4 linked regions of the Homo sapiens genome follow. The protein of the gene in region 3 purifies or fractionates together with the protein of the main gene of each other region. This does not show direct contact. Each region holds a gene or a part of one and is shown on either strand. Other genes may lie near its edges.

Region 1 (7,024 bases), about 50 Mb from region 3:
GGCTGGAGGGCAGTGGCACAAACTTGGCTCACTGCAATCTCTGCCTCCCAGGTTCAAGCAATTCTCCTGCCTCAGCCTCCTGAGTAGCTACAATTACAGGCTTATGCCACCACGCCCAGCTAATTTTTGCATTTTTAGTAGAGACGGGGTTTCCCCATGTTGGGCAGGCTGGTCTTGAACTCCCGACCTCAGGTGATCCACCCACCTTGGCCTCCCAAAGTCGTGGGATAACAGGCATGAGCCACTGCACTTGGCCGAGGCATAATTTTTTTTTTTTTTTTTGAGACTGAGTCTTGCTCTGTCGCCCAGGCTGGGGTGCAATGGTGCGATCTTGGCTCACTGCATCCTCCGCCTCCTGGATTCAAGTGATTTTCCTACCTCAGCCTCCCGAGTAGCTGAGATTAACAGACGCGAATAACCACTCCCAGTTAATTTCTGTATTTTTTAGTAGAGACGGCGTTTCACCATGTTGGCCAAGCTGGTCTCGAACTCCTGATCTCCGGTGATCCACTCACCTTGGCCTCCCAAAGTCCTGGGATTACAGGTGTGAGCGATCGTGCCTGGCTGGCGTAATTATTTTTAAGTGTGAGGTTTAAATAGTCTGCCTTATATCAATTCTAAGGTATTATATAATCTTGAAGCAACAAATTAAACCAAAAATGAACCTCCCTAGGGTCTCCCACTTAGAAACATTTACACTGCGATTAGTTTATCACTTTTTGTGGAAATACCTGATAATTAAATTTAAAAGGATTTCAAAAAATAGGAGAAAGACTTTGACATCAAGGAAGCATTATGAGGCCAAGTGTGGCGGCCCACACCTGTAACCCCAGTACTTTGGGAGGTTGAGGTGGGCGGATCACTTGAGCCCAGGAGTTTGAGGCCAGCCTGGACAACAAGGTGAAATCACGTCTCTACCAAAAAAACAAAAAATTAGCCAGGCATGGTAGTGCATGCCTGTAGTCCCAGCTACTCAGGAGGCTGTGGTGGGAGGATCACTTGAGCCCAGGAGGCAGAGGTTGTAGTGAGCTGAGATTGAACCACTGCACTCCAGCCTGAGTGACAGCGTGAGACTCTGTCTCAAAAACATTAACAAAAACAAAACCCACTTTTGCTCTTAAAAGTATCCACTGCGGGCCGGGCACGGTGGCTCATGCCTGTAATCCCAGCACTTTGGGAGGCTGAGGCGGGTGGATCAGCTGAGGTCAGGAGTTCAAGACCTGCCTGGCCAACATGGTGAAACCCCATCTATACTAAAAATACAAGAATTAGCCAGGTGTGGTGGCATGCAACTATTAATCCCAGCTACTTGGGAGCCTGGGGCAGGAGAATCACTGGAATCCGGGAGGCACAGGTTGCAGTGAGCCGAGATCACGTCACTGCACTCCAGCCTGGGTGACAAAGCAAGACTCTGTCTCAAAAAAAAAACTATCCACTGCATAAAATAGAAATCCATGAGTCTAAACTGGTGTGTGTGTGTGTATGTGTGTATACAGATATATAACTGAGTAAATAAATGGGGGAGAAGGAAATCTCTTCCTGACAGTAATATGCCAACTATAATAAATGTAGAAGTATGATCAAAAAATCACCATTTGTCAACCATCACGGTGGTGGCTGACTCAGGCAACAGTTGTCAATGGATGCTAAGCCCGGTAGGTGGAGGTCTCATATGAACAGGATATTGGCATAATCTCAGAATCCATCTCTCCTCAAAGGGCACTGGCCCATTACAAGGGGAGAAAACAGGGTCTCTGTGCTAGAGATGCTTGGAGGACACCAATGTAACTGAGTGACCAGGTTTATCACCACCAGAAGTGAGACAGGACAGCCATACACCTCCTGATGTGGTGCACTGCTGAGAGTCCAGCCTAATTTCTGTGGTCTTACTGCCAAAAATGTATGACCTGGTTATGATGATGGATGCACAACTCTGTAAACAGATTTCAGCACTTAACAAGGATGAGTGGCATGGTATGCAAATTGTATCTCAATACAGTGATGGTTATAAAAGTCTCTAACCCAAGTCTGATCACAAGACAACAGCCTAGGCCAGGTGTGGTGGCTCGCGCCTGTAATCCCAGTACTTTGGGAGGCCAAGGTGGGTAGATCACTGGAGGTCAGGAGTCCAAGACCAGCCTGGCTAACACGGTGAAATCCTGTCTCTACTAAAAAAACAGAAATTAGCCGGGCATGGTGGTGGGTGCCTGTAATCCCAGCAACTCGGGAGGCTGAGGCAGGAGAATTGCTTGAACCCAGGAGGCGGAGGTTGCAGTGAGCAGAAATTGCACCACTGCACTCCAGCCTGGGTGACAGAGCCAGACTCCATTTCAAAAAAAAAAGAAAGAAAAGAAAACAGCCTAGGCAACACAGGGAGATCCCATCTCTACAGAAAAATACAACAACCAGCCAGATGTGGTGGTGCATGTCAGTAGTCCCAGCTACTTGGAAGGCTATGGCAGAAGGACTGCTTGAATCCACGAGGTCAAGGCTACAGTCAGCTGTGATAGTGTGACTGCACTCCAGCTTGGGTGACACAGCAAGACCCCATCTTAAAAAAAAAAAAAAAAGGGAATAAGAAAACATTAGCTAAACACAGGTTGAGAATTATCAGAGTCAAAGGCCTGTATTCTTTTTTTTTTTTTTTGAGACAGTCTCGCTCTGTCACCCAGGCTAGCGTGCAGTGGCATGATCTCTGCTCACTGCCACCTCCGCCTCACGGATTCAAGCGATTCTCCTGCCTCAGCCTGCTGAGTAGCTGGGATTACAGGTGCACACCACCACGCCCAGCTAATTTTTGTATGTTTAGCAGAGACAGGTTTTCACCATGTTGGCCAGGCTGGTCTAGAACTCCTGACCTGAGGTGATCTGCCCACCTCAGCCTCCCAGAGTGCTGGGATTACAAGTGTGAGCCACCATGCCCGGCCAATATTGTTGTATGAATCTAACATTACTTGTATAGTGGTATAATATTAATTAATGATGGATTATAAGAATCCATTCTGTAATCTCTGTAACTATTACAAATTAATATAAAGGGACTTAGCTTACAAGCCAATAAAGCAGAAAATACTTGACCTAAAAGAAGGCGAGCACAGAGAAACTAAGCCTATAGAGCATATTTCTCTTGGGGAATGAGAACAATATTAAGAACCTAGCAATTAAGCAAACACAAGCAGTTGTCTACTTTGCTTAAATGCAATCCACATTATTTACAAACGCAAATTTTTGTCAAAGTCTAAAATGTTGCTGGGTACAGTGGGTCATGCCTGTAGTCCCAGCACTTTGGGAGGCCAAGGTGGGAGGACTGCTTGAGGCCAGGAATTCAAGCTCAGCCTGGGTAAGAAAGCGAGATCCTGTCTACCAAAACACCACCACCAAAAAAAAAAAAAAAAAAAAAAAAAAGGAAAACGAAATTTGCCAACTCTCTAAAAACCAGAGAACATGAGCATTATTAGTCATCCTTAAACAAAATTCAGGAGATTCCACCTTGCTTCTTCTCATGCTACTTAGCAACATTTAGATTAGCTACTGGTGGGGCAGTATCTCTGAAAGGAGAGGGAATCTTATACGATTAGTGCAGCACAGCCATGAGCCAAATGCAGTCTGATCCTTACCTGCCCTGCTCCAAAAGGACAATATCCTTCCACCCCATTTTGGAGAGGTGATAGGCCACAGAAGTGCCCGTGATTCCACCTCCACAGATGACCACCTGTGCCTGGGTGGGCAGGGCCATGGAACGCGCCTCGGCAGCTGACGTGCTGTTTCTTGCAGAGGACCAGTTCTGCCATCCTGGGCTGGCTCTTTGTCTTCCAACAATCGACAGCAACCGGTAGAACATCATGTCTCTCACCAACTAGATCTCAGGAACTCAAACTAGACAGAGAAACCAAACATATTTCATGCCATTCTACTCAGTGCATGGGATTAATGAGAAAGGGATTTGACAAAGAACGATAGCCATTCATTCAGCAAATATTTGAGGGTGGCTGGGCATGGTGCCTCACACCTGTAATCCCAGCACTCTGGGAGGCCAAGGCGGGCGGATCACGAGGTCAGGAGATCGAGACCATCCTGGCTAACACAGTGAAACCCCGTCTCTACTAAAAATTCAAAAACTTAGGCTGGGCGCAGTGGCTCACACCTGTAATCCCAGCACTTTGGGAGGCCGCGGCGAGTGGATAACGAGGTCAGGGGTTCGAGACCAGTCTTACCAACATGGTGAAACCCTGTCTCTACTAAAAACACAAAAATTAGCTGGGCATGGTGGCAGGTGCCTGTAATCCCAGCTACTCAGGAGGCTGAGGCAGGAGAATTGCTTGAACCCGGGAGGCGGAGGCTGCAGCGAGCAGAGATCGCGCCACCGCACTCCAGCCTGGGCGACAGAGCGAGACTCCGTCTCAAAAAAAAAACAAACAAACAAACAAAAAAAAAACAAAAAAAGAAATATTTGAGGGCATTCTGAGTTTCAGATATTCTGCTAGCAGTGAACAAGAATGGGGAAGTCCCTGTCTTTATGAAATTTACATTTGAGAGTTTGCGTGTGTGAATGAGGAGAACACCAATCAATATACAAATAAACATACAAATAAAACAGTAAATAAAGCTAACATGATAGAGTAACTAGGGGCATATTTAAAACAGGATGGTCAGAAACAGCCTCCAAGGAAGTGACATTTGGAAACAGACCTGAAGGATAAGGAACGAGCTATACATTTGGCAGACACTGAGACGAGCATGTGCAAAAGCCCTGAGGTAAGACAGACCAAGAACAAAAAGGAGGCCGGCATGTACACGACACGGGGAGTGTGGGGAGATGATCTAAGACAATGCTGGAGAGGCAGGCGGAAGCCAGTTACACACAGCCCTTGGGTGCCATCAGCAGGAGTTGGAATTTTATTCAAAGTACAAAGGAAAATCACTCATGCGGGAGTATCACTAGCAGGGGAATGAAATGATCTGGGATGTTTTTCTTTTCTTTGTTTTTTTTGGCGGTGGGGGGTTGGGGGATGTTTTCCAAAGGTCAGTCTGGCTCCATGGTGGAGAGCGGATGGTAGAATTATAAGAAAAACAGAGTTGACTTCCTAGGCTCAAGTGATCCTCCCACCTTGGTCTCCCAAAGTGTTGAGATTACAGGCATGAACCACTGCCCTTGGACAAGGCAGGGTTTTAACAAACTTAATCTATCAGCAAAACAGATGACTGTTCAAGTTTCAAGAAACTGAAGAAGAAAGCACCTACTGGCTGTCCATGCAGTCATGTGTACAGGAGGATGAGGACTTTGAGACGAGAGGCGGTAGACAAGGGGGCCTTAGGGTAGCTCACTGCTAGTCATCTCCTTACCGCCTCCACTGCCAGCCACAGGACCCACAGATGCTCCACAGTCAGCACAAATTGTCCAAGGCCAAGGTATCTATGTCCATCCATCAGAGATGACTCTCAGAATTGCAACCAATGCAAGCACAGACTGTGTCCAGGCAGACATCCCATCCAACTGGAGACAAATTGTCTTGGCCACCTTGTGGTTGCCACCATGCCTCTCATCCCTGGTCCCTGTTAAGCACCATCTCAAAACAGAAGCTTCTCTACCCGGCTAGTCTTTCCATAATCTCATCTCCACGTGACCAATTTATTTCCCGTGGCCCAAGCTCTCTTTGCTTTCCTCTCCTTCAAGCCCCTCTACTGCACCCTCCAGAATACCTTTCCCAAAGGTAAACACCCACCCCTTTGCTGACATTCTCTCTACCCTCTGTCCCAATGGCAACACAGCTCTCCTGGGGAACTGCTGCTGCCAAATGGCCAGCCCCGTCCCATTGACCTCACTGTCAACCTCCTGGCTTCTGACCCGTGACCACTCGGTTATACTTGAAAACTGTCCTGCTCCTTGGTGGCTTAGGCTAGCACATGTTAAGCCACAGGCAGACCTCTGTCTGTATTCAGGTTCAGAGCCCAGCTATTCCTCTCTCAACCTTCAATTTCACCTCCTTTCTTCCCTCATTCTAAGCAGATAACCTGGCTCATCTCATTCCCTGAAACCCTTCCTATAGACCCACTTGCATCTGCAACCATCTCTTCCTTCCTTCTTTTATCCACTGGAAAGTTAATCTCCCCCAAGGGCCCTGGATCCCACTTCCTCCTCTCTTCTCTTGACCCTAGCTCCATCAACTGCTATCTCTCTTTCATGTACCTGCAACGTTTCCCTCCCTTTTTGCTGCTTTTCCTCAGCAATTTTTTTTTTTTTTTTGAGACAGAGTCTCACTCTGTCGCCCAGCTGGGAGTGCAGCGGTGTGATCTCGGCTCACTGCAACCTCTGCATCCCAGGTTCAAGCAATTCTCCTGCCTCGGCCTCCTGAACAGCTGGAACTACAAGCACGCGCCACCACGCCCAGTTACTTTTTGTATTTTTAGTACAGACAGGGTTTCACCATGTTGATTAGGCTGGTCTTGAACTCCTGACCTCAGGTGATCCACTGGCCTTGGCCTCCCAAAGTGCTGGGATTATAGGCGTGAACCACCACACCCACCTTAATGACTTTCTGATGCCCTCAGGAAAAAGGCAAAACTCTTTTCATATCAAGTGCAAGATCCTTCACACTCTGGTTCTTATCTGTGGTCTCATTTCTCCTTTCCTCACACTCTGACCAAACCAGACTGAACAACCTGTAATTCGTCAAACATATCAGGTGAGGCGTGAGTGTTCTATTCGGCTCCAGGTTCTGTGCATGCTGTTCCCTCCTGGCATGGTTCCTGCCACCTCTCCCCCAAATACAGGTAATCTCCTCAGGTCACAGCCTCTTTGACATCTTATTTATTTTTTTTGAGATGGAGTCTCGCTCTGTCGCCCAGGCTGGAGTGCAGTGGTGCGATCTCAGCTCACTGCAAGCTCTGCCTCCTGGGTTGATGCCATTCTCCTGCCTCAGCCTCCTGAGTAGCTGGGACTACAGGCACCCACCACCATGCCTGGCTAATTTTTTTTTTTAATTTTTAGGAGAGACGGGGTTTCACCATGTTAGCCAGGATGGTC
Region 2 (7,024 bases), on a different chromosome or scaffold from region 3:
AAGAAGAAACTATCCTCAAAACTGGGTTAATGGAGCTATAAAATGATCTCACCAAGGTCAAAGTAAACATTAGTTTACTTCATCTTGCTTCATCTCTAAAATTCCAGGTGAAGGTCTTATCCATGTATTATGACACGGTATTTCATCATGCATTGTAACAGAGCCCATGCCCTTCTCTGAAGACACTTAATTAGGTCTGGCTTTTTCCTGGAAGCACAGCTTTTCTTTCAAATAGACTATTTAGTCTTCAGGATCTTAGAGACCATTCCAATCTTCAGTGTCTGCCAAAAGCCAAGTTGAACACCTAATATTTGAGAGAGATGTTCAAGACTCAAGATTCTCTGGGCTCTGCCTCTGTACTAAGCTCAAGCACCAGGAAACTATACATGTCAACTCTAGAGCTCCATCATCCCACCCTTGACTCTTCCGCCAGGCCATTCTTCCCCATCCCGCTGTAGCAGATGTTGTCAGTGGCCACTCAGATCCTCTCTAACTGCTGTGTTGACAACTAACGGCTCACACCTGCACCCTCATCTCGACCATGTTCCTCAACTATACAGCTCTCCATCAAGCCTGAGAGCTCCCCCGACCCTGCCTGGCCAAGGGCTGACTAACACTGCATTCAAAAGGCCAGTCCCAGCACCTCAAGGTGGGACTTGATTAGTAGCACAATCTGTGCCCTAGAGCTGTTCCATCCAATATGGCAGCCACGAGCCACATTCAGATGTGCTCTAAGAGTAAACTACACACTGGATTTTGAAAACTTAGTACCCAGAAAATGTAAAAGACCTCATTAGTGAATTTTTACATTTACATATTCAAATAATACTTTGAATATTTGAATATATTAAGTAAAATATATTAATTTCACCTTATTTTACTTTTTTTGTTTTTTTAAGAGATGGGGGTCTCACTATGTTTGCCCAGGCTGGACTGCAGTGACTACTCACAGGCACAATTATAGCCCATGGCAGCCTCTAACTCCTAGGCTTAAATGATCTTCCCACCTCAGCCTCCTAAGTAGCTGAGACTACACATCCCTGCCACCACACCTAGCTTCATTGTACTTTTTTTTTTTGAGACAGGATCTCACTATGTTGCCCAGACTGAAGTGTAGTGATAGGATCATAGCTCACTGCAGCCTTGAACTCCTGCATTCAAGCAATCCTCCCACCTCAGCCTCCTGAATAGCTGGGACTATGGATGCATGTCACCATGCCCCACTAATTTTTTTATTTTTTGTAGAGACTGGGCGGCTGGGGGGTTCTCACTATTTTCCCCAGGCTGGTCTTGAACTGCTGGCCTCAAGTGATCCTCCCACCTTGGCCTCTTTGCTTTACTTTGTTAACATAAGTATTCGAAGATTTGTGTTTGTTTGTTTTTTGAGACGGAGTCTCACTCTGTCGCCAGGCTGGAGTGCAGTGGTGCCATCTTGGCTCACTGCAACCTCTGCCTCCCAGGTTCAAGCAATTCTCCCGTCTCAGCCTCCCGAGTAGCTGGGATTACAGGCATGTGCCACCATGCCTGGCTAATTTTGTATTTTTAGTAGAGATGGGGTTTCTTCATGTTGGTCAGGCTGGTCTCGAACTCCCGACCTCAGGTGATCCACCTGCCTCGGCCTCCCAAAGTGCTGGGATTACAGGTGTGAGCCACTGCACCCGGACCATTCTTTTATTTTTTAATTGAGATGTAATTCACATACCATAAAATTCACCCTTTTAAAAAAGTATACAACTCCGTGGTTTTTAGTATATCCACAAGGCATGGAACCATGATGGCTACTGATTCCAGGACATTTTTTATCACCCCAAAAAGACAACCCTTAACTATTCGCAGTCACTCCCATCCCCTCTCCTCCAGGCCCTGGGCAACCACTAATCTACTTTCTGTCTTCATGGATCAGTCTATTCTGGAGACTGCATATAAACACAAAATCACACAATAGCGACCTTGTGTGTCTACCCTTCAAAAGTCACTCTTAATTCCTTCCTTTCCCTGTTTGTACATACCTTACAGATACTGTAGGTTCAGGTCCAATTAATTATTGTTCAAAACAGTTATTGCTCAAAAATGCTAACAATCATCTGATCCTTCACCATGTTAGCCAGAATGGTCTCAATCTCTTGACCTTGTGATCCACTCGCCTCGGCCTCCCAAAGTACTGGGATTACAGGTGTGAACCACTGCGCCCGGCCTCACTTCTTTTCTTAAACCCCATGAACCAACCTCTGCTTCCAAGTTTTCTTCTGCAGCATCCTCACCTCTCTCAGCCTTCGCAGAACTGAAGCGAGGACCTTGCGCTGGATTAGGCTATGGCTTAAGGAAATGTTGTGGCTGGTTTGATCTTCTATCCAAACCACTAAAGCTTTCGCCATATCAGCAATAAAGCTGTTTCACTTTTTTTAATCAGTTGTGCGCTCACTGGAGTAGCACTTCTAATTTCCTTCCAGAACTTTTCCTTTGCATTTACAATTTGGCACAAGAGGCCCAACTTTCAGTCTATCTTGGCTTTTGACAGGCCTTCCTCACTAAGCTTAATGATTTCTAGTTTTTGATTCAAAGTGAGAGATGTGTGACTCTTCCTTTCACTAGAACGCTTAGAAGATTATTAATTGGCCTAATTTCAATATTGTTGTATCTCAGAGAATTAGGGAAGCCTGAGGAGAGGGAGAGACATAGGGGAATAACTGCTTGGAGAAGTCAAAACTCACACATTTATCAATTATGTTTCTCCAACTTATATGGGCGTGGTTCACGGCACCCCAAAATATTTACAATAAGAATATCGAAGATCACTGATCACAGATCACCATAACAGACATAGTAATAATGAAAAAATTATCAAAATGTTTCACAGAGACACCAAGTAAGTATGTGCTATTGGAAAGATGACACCAATACAGTTGCTCAAAGCAGGGTTGCCACAAACCCTCAATCTGTAAAAACAACAAAAAAAAAGCAGTATCTGCAGGGTCAATAAAGCCAAGATATGAGGTACATCTGTATCTGCCTTCAAACCCCACAGCAAGATACTGGCTCTAGCTCCAAAATACATTCCAAGTCTGACCAGTTCTCAGCAACTCCAGTGCCCTAGCACAAGTTACCATCATCTCTAGCTTGGTCTTCTACAACAGCTTCCTGATGGGTCTCTCTGTTTCCACTCTTCCCACCCCAGTCCCCAATCCTACTCCCACCCCTACTAAGACATTCGCTACGTACTAGTCACAAACGTCTTTTCCAAACATAAATTCAATGTGCTTAAATGCCTCCAACTGGACTCTCATTACTAAATTCCAAATACAAGCCCCTGATGACTCTGTCCCGCCTACCCACTCCTCCTCCCTCATCTCCTAAGATCACCCCCTCATTCAGTTCACTCCAACCACAGCAGCCACATTCATCCCTTAATTATGCCAAATGCAATCTCCCCTCAGAGCTTTTGCCCTGGCACTCCTTGGTCTGCAATGCTAGGCCCCCATATAGTCACATGGCTGGCTGGCTCAGTTTCCTGTCCAAATGCCACATGCTCAGAAATGTCCCCCATGGTCTCATTAGGTAACATCCCCAACTCAGCACCACTACCACTCTCTATCCCATTAACCTATCTTTTTCCTTCGAGAGCACTTCTCACTCTCTGAACTTTTCTATTTATACGAGCACAGTCTCCTTACTCAAATGTAACCACAATGGGAGCAGAAACAGTCACAATTATATTCCCAGCTCTAAGTAGTGTCTGACACATACTACGTGTAGGTGAATTGAACGATAGCCCCTAAAATGATGTGTCCACGTCCTGGAACCTGTGATAAAGTGTCTTTGCCAATACAACAAAGTGAAGGATCTTGAGATGAAATCATCCTAGATCTTGTCATGGCCCTAAATCCAATGAAAAGTGTCTTTATAAAAGAATGAGAGGGAAAGACGCACAAGAAGGAGGAGGAGAAGGCAGCCATGTGAAGACAGAGGCAGAGACTGGAGTGATGCAGCCACAAGCCAAGGAATGAATGCAGCCACCAGAAGCTCAAAGAGGCAAGAAAGGATTCTCCCCTAGAGCCTTCAGGCGAAGCATGGCCCTGCTCATGCCTTGATTTCAGACTTCAGGCCTTTAGTACTGTGGGAGAATGAATTTGTTGTTTTAAGCCACCAGGTCCATGGTCATTTGTACAGCAGCTCTAGGAAACCAAAGGTTTCTTGAATAAATAATACCAAAGAGAGGGCAGGCACGGTGGCTCACATCTGTAATCCCAGCACTTTGGGAGGCCGAGGCAGGCGGATCAATTGAGGTCAAGAGTTCAAGACCAGCCAGGCCGACATGGTGAAACCCCGTCTCTACTAAAAATATAAAAATTAGCTGGGCATGGTGGCACATGCCTGTAATCCCAGCTACTCAGGAGGCTGAGGCAGGAGAATCACTTGAACCCCGGAGGCGGAGGTTGCCGTGAGCGGAGATCACACCACTGAACTCCAGCCTGGACAACATGAGACTCTATCTCAAAAACAAACAAACAATACCAAAGAGAGTATGCCACATGGATGCTGTATTAGGTTTTGTGAATGAAATCACAAAACTGTATCTTCCAACATTCTTTAAATTCACTTTTATTTTGATCTTATTAGGTTGATCCCATCAGTTTGTGGGGTTTTTTCTAACGAAAATGTCAATAGGCATTTAAAATAAAGAAACTAATTTTTGAAAGTTATGCAATATGCTTATCTTTCAAAAAATATAATTTTGCTTCAACTATTCAAGAGTGTTGTCAAAAGCAGTATTTTTTGTATATAACACTTTACCATGCTACTAAAATTATTCTCATTAAAGATCAAAGATCTTTTCAAATTCTTTCACCAATCTTTTTTTTTTTTTTTTTTTTTTGAGACAGATTTTCGCTCTTGTTGCCCAGGCTGGAGTGCAGTGGTGCAATCTCGGCTCACTGCAACCTCCACCTCCTGGGTTCAAGTGATTCTCCTGCCTCAGCCTCCCAAGTAGCTGAGATTACAGGCATGCGCCACCATGCCCGGCTAATTTTGTATTTTTAGTAGAGACGGGATTTCTCCATGTTGGTCAGGCTGGTCTTGAACTCCCGACCTCAGGTGATCTGCCTGCCTCGGCCTCCCAAAGTGCTGGGATTACAGGCATGAGCCATCGTGCCCAGACTTTTTTTTGAGACAGGGTCTTGCTGTGTCACCCAGGCTGTAGTACATTGGTGTGATCACAGCTCACTGCAGCCTTGACCTCCTGGGCTCAAGTGATCCTCCCTCCTCAGCCTCCCAAGTACCTAGAACCACAGGCACGTGCCACCACACCCAGCTAATTTTTATTTTATTTTATTTTATTTTGTAGAGATAGCCGGGGGTGGGGGTGGTATCATTATGTTGCCTAGGCTGGTCTCAAACTCCTGAGCTCAAGAAATCCTCCCACTTTGGCCTCCCAAAGGGTTGAGATTGCAGGCGTGAGCTACCACACCTGGCCTCATCAATCTTTTATTCCTTAGCCTCTCTGCACCTGGGACATAGTTAGGGAATATGTTTTAATTTCTTTTTCTCTCCTCTGTACGTGCCATAGTACCTGGAACTTAGAAAATGCTCCACAAACACTTTCTGAGTAAAGAGCTAGATCTCTAGACAAATGAATGAATGAATGCTAACTACTTCTTGAAATTTCTTTCCTAGGTTTGGTAACACTACACTACATTGGCTCCTCTCAAACCATACCTCTAACTCCTCTTGTCTCTTCTTCCTTCTTCCAAATCCTAATTTAGGGTTATAAAACGAAGCATTTATTCAATTAAATATTAACTGACTCACTATATCCGTCAGGGCTCACAGTTCTAACTCTAACTCTAGCCTCGTATCCCTGGCCCAAAAGCCAGCCACTGATACCCAGCACCTCAGCATGGCTCCTGCGGGCATCTAACTCCAGATACCTACAATGAAACACTATGTTTCCAGCCCCACCAAAAAAGTGTTTCTTCCCAAATTCCTTTTTCATCCTTGTTCTCCCACCTACATTTTTTAAAGTTTGGAATCATTTAAACAAATCCTTTTCCCTCACTCTTCATCAAAAATGTCACATCTTTTCCTCTTAGAAAAGGACTAGAGCAGTTTTTACCTCTGTTCTGAACCTCTCAGGAACAGAATAAAATCCAAATGGTAGATGTATAAATATATAAATGTCTATAAACATTTTTTTACACCAGAAACTAGTTTCTGTAATAATCTCAGAAATTTCTTTTCCCAAATGATTTGTCAGAAATTTATCAGCATGTTGGAAACATTAACCTCCAGGCAATTCTAAAGCATTCATATAAGCCTAAACATTCTTTTCCATATTTACTGATTACAAAAGAAAATAATGGATGTCAAGTAACACAGGGCTTAAACATTCAAATTTCATGAATGCATCACACAATGAGACCATGATTCAAATGAGACAATTTGTAATTAGAAAAGCAAGCTGAGGTGGGTGGATTGCTTGAGTTCAGGAGTTTGAGACCAGCCTGGGCAACATAGCAAAACCCCATCTCTACAAAAAATAAAAATTAAAATTAAAAAATAGCCAGGTGTGGTCGTACGTGCCTGTGGTCCCACCTACTTGGGAGGCTGAGATGGGAGGATGGCTTGAGCCCAGGAGGCAGAGGCTGCAGTAGGCCAAGATCATGCCACTGCACTCCAGCCTGGCCAACAGAGCCAGACCCCATCTCAAAAAAAAAAAAGGAAGAAAGAAAAGAAAGCCTTCAGAATCATATTATCTAAGGTTCAAATTCTACTTCAGCCAATTGTGCTTTTAAGCAACTACTTAACTGCCCTGAGCTTTGTTTCCTCTACTGTAAAATTGGGATTTTTTACCTAGTTGTTATAAGGATAAAAGATATATGAAAAATCACACCATTGGGCTCGGTGGCTCATGCCTGTAATTCCAAGCACTTTGGGAGGCCAAGGCAGTGGATCAAGAGGTCAGAAGATCGAGGTGGCCAACATGGTGAAACCCCATCTCTACTAAAATACAAAAAAAAATTAGCCGGTG
Region 3 (7,501 bases):
AGTAAATTATGTGGAATTTAGAAGATAATTAATGATATGAAGAAAAATAAAACCTGGAAGGATGATGAGGAACGCCTGAGAGGGGGATGGGATAAAATAAGAGGATTTATGCAAAACGAGCAGCTCAGTACCTAGAAGGCAGGAGCCCCTCACGCATCACCACCCTGGCCTCATCTCCTAGGGGAGAAAGATCTCCACTCACCCTGCTCCAGCCACACTGGTGTCCCTGCCAGTCCTCCAATACAATGTCTGGGCCTCTACACTTGTGGTTTCCCCTGTTAGGGAGGCTCTTCACCCAGGTGGACTCAGGGTTCACCCCTTAGCTCGTTCCAGTCTTTGCCCAAATGTCACTTCCACAGTTGGGCCTTTCCTGGCCACTTTGTTTAAATTTGTAAGTGCCCCATCCCCCTCTCAGGCGTTCCTCATCCTCCTTCCAGGCTTTATTTTCCTTCATAGCATTAATTTTCTTCTAAACTCCACATAATTTACTTTGCTTACCTGGTGATAGGTGCTCAGTAAATATTTGTTGAATGAATAAAGAAAAGGCTGTTGATATTATTAGCATCGTTATTACTGTCAGAGTTTGCAGCCTTTGGCTATCTGCTGCCCAACTGTTATTAAATACTGATGGAGATGACTAACATTCATTTCACTAAATTTTAACATCTGTGGGTTTTAGTCCTAGCGCTTTGCTCTTCTCTTTCTTTTCTTTTTCTTTGAGACAGTGTAGTGGCGCGATCTCCACTCACTGTAGCCTTCACCTCCAGGGTTCAAGCGGTTCTCCTGCCTCAGCCTCCTGAGTAGCTGGGACTACAGGCATGCACCACCACGTCTGGCTAATTTTTGTATTTTTAGTAGAGACGGGGTTTCACCACATTGGCCAGGTCGGTCTCAAACTCCTGACCTCAAATGATCTGCCTGCCTCGGCCTCCCAAAGTGCTGGGATTACAGGCGTGAGCCACGGCATGCGGCCCCACTCTTCTCTTTCCATACTTAACTTCCATACTTTTGTTGGCTTGTTTAAATGCATGACTTCAAATACACCCCTTTATAAGTTACTCTCTCATTTACTCTCCAGGATTTGATCAATTGATTACATTTACTATTAAGACCGTTTTCCATCTGCCTATTAGAAAAGCTCTTTTTGGTTGAACCACACTCACTGAATATCTGAATGTCTTAATTTGAACTCATCATGTCCCTTTCAACTTTTCTTGGCAATTATTCCTTTTCTGGATGTTGTGTTTGCAAATAATTCCTGGGATGTGTTTGACTCTTTTTTCTCCCAGGCCTAAATCAACAATCTAGTCTGGCATATATTATTTTGACATCTTTCACACTTGTCAACTGTTAGTCACAAACTAAAACACTTGGGTTATTATCCCAAATGTCCTTCATTCATTTTCCTTCACTCTTGCACACAGTTGTTTCTTGACATAACATAGGCACTTTTATGATGATACTCATTTACTGATAAAGCTGCTGCTGCTTTTTTTTTTTTTGACAGAGTCTTGCTCTCTTGCCCAGGCTGGGGTGCAGTGGTGCAATCTTGGCTCACTGCAACCTCCGCCTCCTGAGTTCAAGTAATTCTCCTGCCTCAGCCTCCTGAGTAACTGGGATTACAGGCATGCACCACCACGGCCGGCTAATTTTTGTATTTTTAGTAGAGACGAGGTTTCACCATTTTGGCCAAACTGGTCTCAAACGCCTGACCTCAGGTGATCCACCTACCTCGGCCTCCCAAAGTGCTGGGATTACAGGCGTGAGCCACTGTGCCCGGCTTAAAGCTTCTTTTTATAAAATAACATTAATTTCTTTCTGATTAGAAAAGAACAGGATTTAATTTCTAAAACATAGAACATACAGAAAAAATGAGTTAATTGAAATCATACATCATCTTACTTAGAGAAACATTCATATTTTGTTACGTATGGGATTAATATATACTTTTTAAAAATAAAATTGTGATTATATTGTCTATAAAGTGTATCCAGTTCTTTCATTGAACATTTATGAAACATTTGTCATGACTTATGATTATATATTCTTCTAAAAAGTACTGATTGAGAGTAACGATATTGAGATTAGACTGCTGGAGAAATAATGTTCAACAGTCCGTCCACCCCTCTGAGGGTAGAGATTGTATCTTTACATCTGGCTGCAGATTCAGAGATGAGGTTGTATCCTGGGTCGCAGTAGAGGACTGAATGCTGAGCAAATGGACATTGAGGGCTCATAAGATGGTTCCCTGTGGCCAAGCTTGGCGGCAAGGGAGAGGAGCTGCCTGCGTGGAAATGGGCCAAACTGGCCAGGCCAGGAAATGAGACAGAGTCACAGGGGAACAACATACAGTGATGGATAAAAATCCAGGGTGAAGTTTGAATCACTGCAAAGATAGGCAGTTAATGGCTCAGCATCCTCTCTATAGGACACCCATAACCCTGTCATTTGCAACAACATGGATGGAACTGGAAGTCATTACATTAAGGGAAGTAAGCCAGGCATAGAAAGCAAACATTGCACATTCTCGCTTACCTGTGGGAGCTAAACAGGAAAACAAATGAACTCATGGAGACAGTAGAAGGACGGTTACCAGAGGCTGGAAAGTGTTGCAGGGAGTTGGAGGAGAAGTGGGGATGGTTAATGGGTACAAAAAAGTAGTAAGAGTGAATGAATAAGGCCTAGTATTTCCTAGCACAATAGGATGACTATCTTCAAAAATAATGTAACCATACACCTAAAATAACTACAATAGTATAAATGGATTGTTTGTAACACAAAGGATAAATGTTTGAGGTGATGGACACCCCATTTACCCTGATGTGATTCTAACGCATTGCATGCCTGTATCAAAATATCTCATGTAACCCATAAATGTATATACCTACTATGTACCCACAAAAATTAAAAATAATTTAAAAAGAACTTCAGAGAACAAACAACAAAAAGACCGGTATGGCTGGAGCAGACTGAGACAGGAGGTTTGAGGCGAAAGGCTCACAGGAATTCCTGTGGGGCCCTGTAGGCAATTGCCAGGACTTTTTTTTTTTTTTTGAGACGGAGTCTCACTCTGTCTCCCAGGCTGGAGTGCAGTGGCACGATCTCGGCTCACTGCAACCTGTGCCTCCCAGGTTCATGCCATTCTCCTGCCTCAGCCTCCAGAGTAGCTGGGACTACAGGCGCCCACCAGAGTAGCTGGGACTACAGGCGCCACCACGCCTGACTAATTTTTGTATTTTTAGTAGAGACAGGGTTTCGCCGTGTTAGTCAGGATGGTCTCAATCTTCAGACCTCGTGATCCGCCCGCCTTGGCCTCCCAAAGTGTTGGGATTACAGGCGTGAGCCATCCCACCCGGCAATCGTCAGGACTTTGGCTTGGACTGTGAGTGAGATAGGGAGTTGCAGGAAGCTTTTTCGAAAAACCACCTTTGGGCCAGGTGCAGTGGCTCCCACCTATAATCCCAGCACTTTGGGAGGCCAAAGCAGGCAGATCACTTAAGGTCAGGAATTTGAGACCAACCTGGCCAACATGTTGAAACCCCATCTCTACCAAAAAAATACAAAAATTAGCCAGGCATGGTGGTGCATGCCTATATTCCCCGCTACTCGGGAGGTTGAGGTGGGAGGATCGCTTGAACCCGGGAGGTGGAGGTTGCAGTGAGCCAAGATTGCGCCACTGCACTCCAGCCTGGGCGACAGAGCAAGAGCCTGTCTCCAAAAACAAACAAAAAAACCCAAAAAACTTCTTTTGGCAGTGTACAATTATTATTACTATTTTTTGTAGTAAATTTACAGAGATCTGCAGTCATGACCACAATCCAAATTTAGAACAATTCTATGACTTCAAAGGGATGCCTTAGAGCCGTTCCCTGGAACCACTCCTCTGTTCTCTCTGTATCTACTGGAGGGTTCTAAGCAGAAAAGAAACAAAGTCTGACTTATATTATTATCACTATTGCACCTTTTCTGTTAAAACATCATAATCCCAGCACTTTGGGAGGCCGAGGCGGGCGGATCACGAGGTCAGGAGATCGAGACCGTCCTGGCTAACACGGTGAAACCCCGTCTCTACTAAAAAATACAAAAAATTAGCCGGGCATGGTGGTGGGCGCCTGTAGTCCCAGCTACTCGGGAGCCTGAGGCAGGAGAATGGCGCAAACCCGGGAGGTAGAGCTTGGGGTGAGCCAAGATCGCGCCACTGCACTCCAGCCTGGGCCACAGAGGGAGACTCCGTCTCAAAACAAACAAACAAACAAAAAAAAAAACCCGTCATAATCTTCCTGTTGCTTTTTCCGATTAGATGGCGACTTGAATTTTTAGGGAATACATCCACCAGTTTGGGCACACCCACCAGGCACGACAGTTGAGGTCTGATCTTCCAGCCACTGTGAGTACTGAGAAAACTTGGCAGGGGGCCACTCTCACTGGCTCAATGCACCCTGACCACTGGAAGCCACTGTGTCAGCTGCTGGGTTCTGGCTCTGCCCACTCTTGGCTGCATTTGGGGCTGAAGTTCCCTGTGGGAGGCTGTTTTCTGAGGGAGCTGAGTGTTTACAGCCACTCAGCCCTGCTCTGCTCAGCTGAAGCAGAAAACAGAGACCTTTTGCATTACTTTGGTTCAAGAGCAAGGTAATTTGGAAAGAAATTTTTCAGACGAAGGTATCAGCTGCCTCTGAGGCCTTTGCTGATTAAATCAAGAAGTGACATCTGAAATGGTGTCGGGGAATGGGAAGGAGGCCTGGGGATTCTAAATTATCAGCTGTTTAGGTGGCTGAGGAATCCAGGGGTGGGAGACTGAGGAAAAGGACTGGGGCAGAGCTCAGTTCAGGAGAGGTGAGGGGCGGGAGAGGTGAGGGGCGGGAGAGGTGAGGGGCGGGAGAGGTGAGGGGCGGGAGAGGTGGGTCAGAGAAAGGAAGTCTCTGAGGCTGCAGGCCTAGGCCTGGTGGCCACTGCAGAGGCTGGGGCCTATGTTTTTCCAGGAAGTGAAACCTGAAAGTCACTTTTCCCCTTTAAGCCTCATTTTCTTTATCTTTAAATGGAGAAAATAACATTTACAGCATAGAGTTGTTATAAAGATTTCATGAAATAATGCCTCTAAGCACTCTTAAAATGCTTGGTACACAGTAGGCCTTCAATAGACTGAAGCTGTTATGGTTTTTCTTGTTGTGCCACGTTATTATTGTTGGTTGTTATTACCATATTTTGTTATTATTATTACTAAGAGGAATTTAATGCAAGGAAACTGAAACTGAGGTCACACGCAGCTCCCGGGCCAGTGCCTCTCAAACTTTAACATGCATATGACTCATCTGAAGATCCCGTTAACTTGCAGATTCTAATTCTACATATGTAGGGTGGGGTCCCATCTGCTGGTCCCAAGATCACACTTTGAGTAGCAAGACACTAAAACTGGGCTGGGCACAGTGGCTCACATCTGTAATCCCAGCACTTGGGAGGCCGAGTTGGGAGGATCACTTGAGGCCAGGGGTTCAAGCCCTGCCTGGGCAACATAGTGAGATCCTGTTTCTACAAAAAAACTTTTTAAAAGTTAGCCACACATGGTGGCTAGTGCCTGTAGTCCCAGCTACTAGGAAGCCTGGGGTGGAAGGACTGCTTGAGTTTGAGGCTGCAGTGAGCTATGATGGCACCACCGTACTCTAGCCTGGGCAGCAGAGTGAGACTCTGTCTCAAAAACAACAATAATAAAAATTTTAAAAATAATAAAATTAAATAAAAAAATTAAAAAGACACTAAAAGCCCATCATGCCATACAGCAGCCACTTGTGGCTTTTGAGCACTTGAAGTGTGGCTAGTCCAAATTGACATGTGTTTGTAAGGGTAAAGTCTATTTCAGATTGTGAGGACTTAGTACCAAAAAAAACAAAAAATAAATAAAAGTATGTAAAATATCTCTTTAACAATTTATTCTTCTATTGACTAGGAATTGAAATGGTCATACTTTGGCTCTATCTGGTTAAATAAAATGTTTTATTATAATAAATCTCACCTGCTTCTACTTTTCTTAATGGAAGTACTAGAACATTGTAAATTGCACAGGTGGCTCACGTTCTATTTCTGTTGGACAGTGCTGCCCTAGAGCTGTCTTCAGCTTTGCAAGGTCAGTTCAGGATTGGCCAAAGCCTTTTTGAGGGATTCCTTTTGAAGTATTGAGGTTTGAGAAGTGGGATCTGAGTTCTGACCTCAGACCCAGATACCCACAAGTCAGTGAGAGGTCAAAAGGACAGACCTCGGGGTCAGAGGAGAGAAATGACCATCACACAGCAGAACTGAGACTGAAGGTGGAGAGTTTATTCTACAAGTCAGTAAGGATCACAGTCACCATCAGCACTAACCACAGGTTTCTCCTAACCTATGTGTTGTCCCCAAAGCCCAGAATTTATGACAATGCCCTCTTTCCTCTCTTTGGTGACAGACAGGAGGCGACTGCATGAGACCATGGCTGAGACACCTAGTCCTCCAGGCACTGAGGAACTCCAGGGCATTCTGTGGGTCTCATGGGAAGCCAGCACCTCTACCTGTTCCTCAGAAGATCGTGGCCACCTGGGAAGCCATCAGCCTGGGAAGGCAGCTGGTGCCTGAGTACTTCAACTTCGCCCATGATGTGCTGGATGTGTGGAGTCGGCTGGAAGAGGTGAAGCCTGTTCTGTCCTAGAGTCCATCTGGGGCATCTGAGGCTGCCCTCATGTACCACAATGAGACTCAAGGCTCCAAGCATGTTGATGAGGAAATTTGGACCTGGGAATTTTGCTAGTTCTAAAATGTAAACTGTTGGCATTTGAGACTTAGGAAAAAATTCTGAGTCAGTGTTGTGAGCCTTAGACATGCTTGTTCCTTCTCTGAAGTGTCCTGCATTCTTGAGCCCAAATCACACAGTGAGACAGTTATGTCCCTTCCGATTCCCTTCCAGTTGTTCATCAACTGAAGGAGGAAGTTTTGTTTTGCTGCTACTCTGTCTTTGATGTTTTTCTCTCACTGTCACGCCCTTCTCTTCTAAATAAGGAAAGAAGGCCGGGCGCGGTGGCTCATGACCATAATCCCAGCACTTTGGGACACCGAGAAGGGCAGATCACCTGAGGTCAGGAGTTCGAGACCACCCTCACCAACATGGTGAAACTCCGTCTCTACTAAAAATAAAATAAAAAAAAATTACCCAGGCATGGTGGCGCACACCTGTAGTCCCAGCTACTTTGGAGGCTGAAGCATGAGAATTGCTTGAACTCGGGAGGCAGAGGTTGCAGTGAGCCAAGATCATGCCACTGCACTCCAGCCTAGACAACAGAGTGAGACTCCACCTCAAAAAATAAAATAAAATACAACAAAACAAAATAAAATAAGGAAAGAATAGGGCTCAGGCTCAAAGCTTTTTGCAGATCATAACAGATACATAGAATTGAATAAGATAACCCTGATTTCTTTGTGTGTCTCTGTGCATCTGCTTTCTTCTTTATTTTCCCTTATATCTGTGTCTGTTGGGTCTCTC
Region 4 (7,789 bases), on a different chromosome or scaffold from region 3:
CTAAAACTTTTTAGTATTTAGTATTTTATGGTTGTTGATCATTTATACCCTTGATATCAACTTTCTTTAAAATATAGAGCACCTTGAAATTCTTTCCTCTTTCCTGTAAGTAAAATACAACTGTGCCGATTGGCAAAGCACTCTATAAATATTAGCCGCTGACAAATACCCAGGGAAGGGCCACATAAAATTATAAGTGCGTCATTGCTGTCGTCAAACCCACCGTCTCTGTCATCAAAGAGAGAGGAAAAGCAAACCTCTAAATATGTCGAAAAAGCAACCCAATTTACAGGGCAATGATTATAGATGTGACTACAGGGTGTCTTTCCCAATCCATTTACCATCTATAACTGGACATAATGCTACTAACCTTTAAAGTGACTGTTCTCAGTGCCCTTCACTGACCATTATGTAACTACATCCTAATGATTTTAACTATCTTTAAAATATGATGTCCATCTAAAAATAGTAAATTTGGATATATTTTTCTAAGACAGTTGAGTTTTTAAAGTGAAGGCAGGAAGAAAAGTAGATAGAGGACTATTTCACAATAACTGAATAATAACACAAGTCCCCTTGGGCTGTTCTATGGAATTTTAATTCACTATTGTGAAGTTCAAGAACTTCTATTTTTTGTGCTTGGCATTCCTCCAAAACTCTGGCCAGTAATGATTGAGTGTGAGTAATGGCTTTTACACCATGAAATGATGGCTTAGTGCTCCTACAAATTTGTCATTCTTAGCTGTGCACTGTGACAGACCCTTGAAACAGATCTGTCACCATGAGCTAGAACTGCTTTCACAGTAATCCATCCACATAATTAGACCATTTTGTCGTGGTTGTGATTGTGGTGGTGGTTGTATGGAGCACTTATTGTGATCTTGGAGAATTGGATTCTAATTTCAATCATATCTGTGCCATTTTAAGTAAGTACTCAATTTCGCGGTTTCTGGGGTCTGATGAAGATGCACCTATCCTTACCTACATACCTACCTTCTCACAGAGTGAGAAGAAGATATTCCAAGTCACCCAACTTTGAAGTATTAGATGGCACATATAATCATAGGGGATAACTTTCATTACTATTGATTTTCTCTGAACTGATACATGAGTACCTTGAGGTATTACTAACAATAAATTCTCATAGTTTACATCTAGTTACAATGTCTTTGATGTTAGTTTAGAATATTCTCCTTTCCCATTCTTTTGCTATAATTAAGCTAAATTCAAGAAAATATATATAACTAGACATAATGCCACTAACCTTTAGTGACTGCTCCCAGTGCCCTTTATGGCCATTATGTAACTACATCCTAATGATTTTAACTATCTTTAAAACATGATGTCCATTTAAAAAGAGTAAAATTGGATACATTGGAATATGTAACAACATAAAAGACATTTTCCTTTCTGGTTTTCTTAATTTAAAATGGTAATTTCCTATACTCTTGTTAGAATCTTCTCAATGTTAAAGGCTGAAGTTGTTAACACACCACTAAGGCTACTATATGTATTTCCTCTTTTCTCCTGGGATCTTGAGCTAGTTTCTCTCTCTTTCTCTCTCTCTCTCCCTCCCATCCCTCACACTTCTCCCCTTCCCCTCCCCCTGTCTCCATCTCTCTTCCTTTTCTTTTACTCCCATTCCTTTCCCATCCCTATCCCTGGCAGCCACAGGAATCTATGAATATTCCTTGGCCTTGCAGGTGTCAGGACCAAAACCCCACTGAATCCTGACTTGAGCAACTGAAACAATAGAAGCTTAGTCAACTCAATGAGCATGCAAAGTATAAGCAGAACACTCCAAACTGTGAGTTCCCATTTTCACATCAACAGACAGAGGTTTTCTTTTGTTTTTTCTATTTCAAATTTTACAGCTTTTGCTGCTAAAGAAGCAATATATCTAAAGCTAATATAATTACTTAAACTTATAGTCACTAAAGATTATTTTCATTGGCAAAGTTCCTATGGAGTAACTTCAGGCTTCTCTGATAATGAACGTCTTCATAAAGTTGCAGGAAGGAGCAGAGGTTCCTACAGGAATTTCATAATTCAATGCTGGGGGGCAGGAAGAAGGGCAATTAATGTTTCTTTCCTGGGCTTGCCCTCTCAATTATAGATACCTGTGGAGGGACAGAATTATCAGCTGCTATCTGCCTCTATGTATTACTCTACAAAATGAAAATAATAAGTTTAGCCTGCCCAAAAAAACAGCCAGAAGGAAAAGGAAAAAGCTAAAGCAGTGTCTACATGATGACCTGCAAATCTCAAAAACACATATTTTCTAATTATGTTTTTAAAATGTTTAAATGATATTTCAAAAGAGAACTTTTCAGTAAGCCCTATTTATAGAACAGACCTTAACACACTGTGTACCATAATGTGGCTCACACACATATAAGCAGCTCCATTTTTTAAATCCAAACTGTAAGCAATAGTATCTAGTCACAGAAAGCTATCTATGAAAGAAAAGATGTTTCTTTTTCAAGCAGTGTACTTACATTTTACATGTTCACAAGAATTGTCATCATTCTTTATGTTGGGTAAAAATTACTGTCATGTTACTCAGATAAGATAAAAATTAGCATTTGCTAAGTCAGTAGGTTCCACAGTAAAGGAAACATTAATACATTAGTACTTCAGAGCTACATTCAAAACTGTATTTGCCTTGTAAGGGACACCTTTGCTTCACTGCTAAACTATACCCCATAGTATTTTATCAGAAACAATCAATATGGGTATTACCTTGACAGAAAGGAGCCTGATGCCAGGTCTTGAAAATTTCCATTTTTGGTGTGCAGTCACATTGGTAAAGCCAAAACCAGTCTTCAGTGTCCTCACCACTTTGAAAGCTGTCAAAATCCTCGTCATTTTGATGATTTGTGGCTAAAATTAAATGAAATTACATAAATTTTATGAGATTGTGTGATAAGACTTTTTAGTTAATGTAAAAGAAATCTGGGAGGGGTGCAGTCAGTGTTTAAGGCTGACTGCACAGCGATCTTTGAATTTCCATTCATTCTGCCATTAAATGTCTTCAGCCACAGCTCCTCCTTCTCTTAACCCCTCCTCCTGAGGTAATGTCCAGAGATGTTCCATGGGCATGTAACACAAATTGCAACACATCAAATACTACCTTCTCCTGCTAAAATAATGCTGGGGTTGTAGAAAACCAGCCATCCATCAAAGGAATTGTTTATGCAGCTGAATGGAATGACCTAGACATCATGGACAACCTTATCCTAAAGAGTAGCAACTTTCCAACATGCTAAGGATCACAGGCTTTTGCTTATGTCACATGTGATACCTAATATGCCTCATAAGAGATTTTGGATTCCCAAAGAAAGCTGAACGCTTGCCATTTTCTGTTGGGGTAAAAAGACAATGTTCTTTTTACAAAAAGTAAAAATCAGAGCATCCTACAAATAGCATTTTTACTATTTGTAAAAAGAACGTTAGAATAAACTTTTCTCCACAAATATACAATAAACCTATCTATATTATGTTTTGGGTTAATAGAGTAGTATACTACATTCTTACTATAGCATTGTTCTGTGTTTCAAAGTTAAAGCAATCAGTAATATCAAGTAAAACACAACTAAAGCAAAGTGGACTATTATATCCCTCTTAAGCCTCTTAGATTTGTAAAAACTTCATGAAACAATGACAAACACTGATTTTAATATAAGCACTATTCCTAAGTCAAGTTTTTTTAGTTATTAAAATGTTATATATAAAATTTTCCAAACTTCAGCATTCATATTTCAACATGAATAAAAAGTGATTCACTTAACCCTTCAGTCCCATGTTTAACCAGGCTCTCAAGGGGCCTCACTGGCTGGCAGATGCTCTTGCTTAAGTCACATGACTATGTAGAACAGGAAGTACTGCAGCAGTGTTCTTTGATACCCTTGCAAAGAAGGCCAAGGAATAAAGGCAATAGACTCATACCTAGGTCTTCTCATAACAGAAAAGATGACAGAAAATGACATAAAGATTGTAAGCTTCAATAACATAGAATCAGTGCTAGAGTTGGGGTAAGGATTTTTTTAAAGAGGAACAAAGTTTAATTTAAGTCCTCACGCTTACTTAATATATTCAAGTACAAACAGTATTTGATTTCAAAGTGCTTCATGGCTCCTGGTGATAGAAAGCTAAACAAAATAGGCTCATACTAGTTTATACAAATAATTAATAAAATAACTGGTGCCATGAAAGTTGCCCAAATGCAATGGGAAAATAAATAAAATGGGGAAAATAAGAAAGAAAGATCAAGTTCCTTGTGCATTTTCAGTAAAGTTTAAGCATAGAATTATGTTGAGCTGTGTTATACTGAAGGATGCAAATTCACCAAGTAGATAAAGAGGGGAAAAAACCCAGAAGGGATGCCGTGGCATGAGCAATAGCCTAGAGGCATGAAGTCATGTGGTATATTTTTTAAAAGCCTAGATGCAGGGTATAGAATGGGAAAATGAAAAGGTACCATATCATGGGAGACTTAGTATGCCTTAAAATGTTCAGCCTTCATCCATAAATAGTATTCATAATAGTCATGGAAGTATTTTGAACAAGAAATAAAGGCGAAATTTGTGTTGAAGATCATTGAAAAATGAATTGGAGGAGAATGAAAATAGCAAAAGGAAAACTCCCAACCTAGAGAACTGAGGACTGAGAAGCAGTACTTACTGGCTTAGTCCAATACTAGTTTACGCCTTGATCTCACCTCTTGTCTTTTTATGTGTGTGTGTGTGTGTGTGTGTGTGTGTGTAGTGAGGGTTGTCTTTCCTTAATTAAGAAAACGATATAAACTCAATCCTCATTATGGAAACTTTTCTTTTTAAGTTTTTTTTTCTTTTATTATTATACTTTAAGTTTTAGGGTACATGTGCACATTGTGCAGGTTAGTTACATATGTATACATGTGCCATGCTGGTGTGCTGCACCCACTAATGGAAACTTTTTAGGATGCAAAATAAATTTAAATCAGTCATAGTCCCATTACCCTAAGGTACCCATGCAATGAATACTATAATATATTTCCTCCCTTCATCACTTATGTTTTAATCAAATATGACAGTGGAAGTACTGAGGAGTCCAGAGCTTGACCAAGGAAAAGACTTCATCACCATTTATAGCAGTTGACTACAAAGCATGATGAATTAAACATGTTTTTCCATAGAAATGTCAACAATCAACAATTCTAGGATAGAATTCTCCTACTCTAAAGTCTAGAGAGAAATGTGGGCATGAGAGTTTTAATGGGCTTTCATTTTTATCAGTAAAGGGTCCCAGATGCAGACTTGCAAACTACGGTGTGTGTGTGTATATATATACATACATATATATATGTGTGTGTATATATATACATACATATATATATGTGTGTGTATATATATACATACATATATATATGTGTGTGTGTATATATACATACATATGTATATGTGTGTGTATATATACATATATATATGTATGTATATATACATACATATATATATGTGTATATACATACATATACATATGTATGTATATATGTATATATATTTTATGGTCCATGTCTTTAGTCATCAGAATGAAGGAGGAGAAGGCAGAAATTTTGGAAAATTTGATTAAATATTCTGAATTAGAGACTTGGAAAATCCATCAATTATAATTCCACAATGGAGGTTGGAACAGCCAATAAATAAAATAGTGGCTAGTTTCATACTTGAGTGTTCAGGCTAGACTGAAATCTATAACCAAACTGGAAAAAAATATATTACACATTAGTGAGGGAGTTTACATTAGGATAGATCAAAGGAGTTGAGGCTATAAGAGTTGGTTGGTAGGGAATGTTAAAGTCAGACATGAAAAAATTTAGTGGAAATGTTACACTTTTAGGACAGATTATTTTTCAAAACATTTTAAAAAATAAGCATTTTTTTCTTCTCTGACCACATGTACACAGTCCTCCTTCATATAAGCTGTCTGCACGCAGCTGAGCAGAGTGACAGGCATGAATGCAGGCACACACATCAGGCTGGGGACCCTGTGTACTTGGAAGTACATTCTTTGTGAGCCAGGTCATCAAAGGTTTTCTAAACTTATGAGTCACTCTCTGATAAAATGAATTTTTTTTTTTAGATTTAGTCTTCTTTTCTATTAATACATTTTAAAAAATAGAAGCATTTAGCCTGTGAAATCCCTCAGGGCACTTTATTTTATGAATTCCTTATTGACATATCTGGTATTGAAAATGTTAAAATGTCAAGTACTAGGTTGTATTCACTTTCATTTGATATTTAAAGAAATGTGGAAATACAGAATAATAGATAATAACCCACCACACAAACATAATCTCTGTTAACACTAAAGTATTATCTTCTAGCATTTATGTCAATGCTCAGAACATAGTTTTGAAAATTGCCATTGACTTGCATAATGCTTTTTGGAGGCAATATTATGTTAAATGTATTTTGATGTTATTACAAAGTTCTTTTAAAACATTACTTTAAATGATTACAAAATATTCCATTTTCATTGCTGCTACAATGCATGTCAATATTGCCATATTTGATTACTATTTACAAATTTCTCTCCAAAGAGAGTGTACTCACCTACATACCAGTGCAATATATGGGTGTCCCTTTAAAAATGTCCTCACCAACATTATGTATTATCTTTCATTTTATTTGCTCCGCTGTAGAAAATATTATTTTGCTTTCATTTCTATTTTAAATCACTGGTGAAGTTGAATACTTCACAGTATGTTTTTAATTGATACTATTCTTTTATCAACTACTGTTTACATTTTTGTTTCCATTAACTCATTTATATTAATCATTACGAAAATGTCTTTAAAGGAAACATAAAGAAACACTGACAGCCTGTGTCTATACTGATTTAAACAGTCCACTTCTCAAACAGTCCACTCTTCATTTAAACAGTCCACTGACATAAGCAAGGGAAGACCTGCTACAGATTGAAAAAAAAAATGAGAACAGGATGTCTTAGAGAATAAAGGTCTTAGGTTTTGGAATGAAGAGAAAATAAGGGTGTTAGTAATTCCTTTGAAGGTACAGAGACTTCCAACTGCCCTCTTGAAATGTTCCTAAGTAATGAATCAGAAACAACTCTAAGAAGTTGGTGCATCTATCAAAAAGTCTCTAACATAGCAAGCATGCAAGAGATGCTTCTGGAAAAATGACTGAATGAATGGATTGCTGTGTGCTTAATTCCTGCCTGATCAGTGATGATTATTTAAGCAGGAACAAATAAAATTACATCAGTTAAGCATGAGAGGAAATAAGGATGCTTAGGAGTCATGAAAAAAAAAACCTGGCAATCAATAATTCTATAAAGTCTATTTTTGAAGAGATACATTAAAGCAAGGAGTAAGGTATGACTGGAGAGCAAACAAATTCAGAGTAAAAGGAGGTGCAATAACTCCCTGAAGAAAGTTCTACTGTTTTGTGTTTGACCAGAAATGTGTGAAAATAGAATATAAAAGGTAGAAGTAATTGGGTTCAGTTCTATGATTTTTATTAGCCTTAGTATCATAACAAGGAACACGGTCACAATTAAAGATATGGATGAAGAAGGCATCTCTGAGGGAAAGTGGTGTGGATTGTACCCATGTAAAAGGCACACATTTTCTCCTATCACAGAAACTAGGACAAGCTGGTAGGAGGATTCCTCAAAGTTTGGCCAGGAAGAAGACTTAAAGTTGTTTGAAAACCTTCCCAATATGTCAAGGATTGAAAATGACAGACAGATATCATGTTGTTAGATGATGAGGGTTCAAACTAACCAG

What was found.
Region 1: the proteins of ACSM5 (region 3) and PDPR purify together in Homo sapiens (affinity purification with mass spectrometry; 2 studies listed by BioGRID and IntAct, with this or other methods). This does not show direct contact.
Region 2: the proteins of ACSM5 (region 3) and PCCA purify together in Homo sapiens (affinity purification with mass spectrometry; 2 studies listed by BioGRID and IntAct, with this or other methods). This does not show direct contact.
Region 4: the proteins of ACSM5 (region 3) and CPS1 purify together in Homo sapiens (affinity purification with mass spectrometry; 2 studies listed by BioGRID and IntAct, with this or other methods). This does not show direct contact.

What each region holds. Positions count from the first base shown.
Region 1 is NC_000016.10:70,117,313-70,124,336, reverse strand, and holds part of PDPR (pyruvate dehydrogenase phosphatase regulatory subunit, mitochondrial isoform 1 precursor), read right to left. Parts: intron 6,851-7,024; exon of another isoform or gene 5,242-6,850; intron 3,877-5,241; 5' UTR 3,845-3,876; coding exon 3,618-3,844; intron 1-3,617. UniProt on the Homo sapiens protein: Decreases the sensitivity of PDP1 to magnesium ions, and this inhibition is reversed by the polyamine spermine.
Region 2 is NC_000013.11:100,092,078-100,099,101, reverse strand, and holds part of PCCA (propionyl-CoA carboxylase alpha chain, mitochondrial isoform a precursor), read right to left. Parts: intron 1-7,024. UniProt on the Homo sapiens protein: This is one of the 2 subunits of the biotin-dependent propionyl-CoA carboxylase (PCC), a mitochondrial enzyme involved in the catabolism of odd chain fatty acids, branched-chain amino acids isoleucine, threonine, methionine, and valine and other metabolites.
Region 3 is NC_000016.10:20,405,037-20,412,537, forward strand, and holds the start of ACSM5 (acyl-coenzyme A synthetase ACSM5, mitochondrial), read left to right. Parts: upstream 1-4,497; 5' UTR 4,498-4,629; intron 4,630-6,433; 5' UTR 6,434-6,448; coding exon 6,449-6,652; intron 6,653-7,501. UniProt on the Homo sapiens protein: Catalyzes the activation of fatty acids by CoA to produce an acyl-CoA, the first step in fatty acid metabolism.
Region 4 is NC_000002.12:210,551,813-210,559,601, reverse strand, and holds the start of CPS1 (carbamoyl-phosphate synthase [ammonia], mitochondrial isoform b precursor), read right to left. Parts: upstream 3,004-7,789; 5' UTR 2,884-3,003; coding exon of another isoform or gene 2,869-2,883; coding exon 2,743-2,868; intron 1-2,742. UniProt on the Homo sapiens protein: Involved in the urea cycle of ureotelic animals where the enzyme plays an important role in removing excess ammonia from the cell.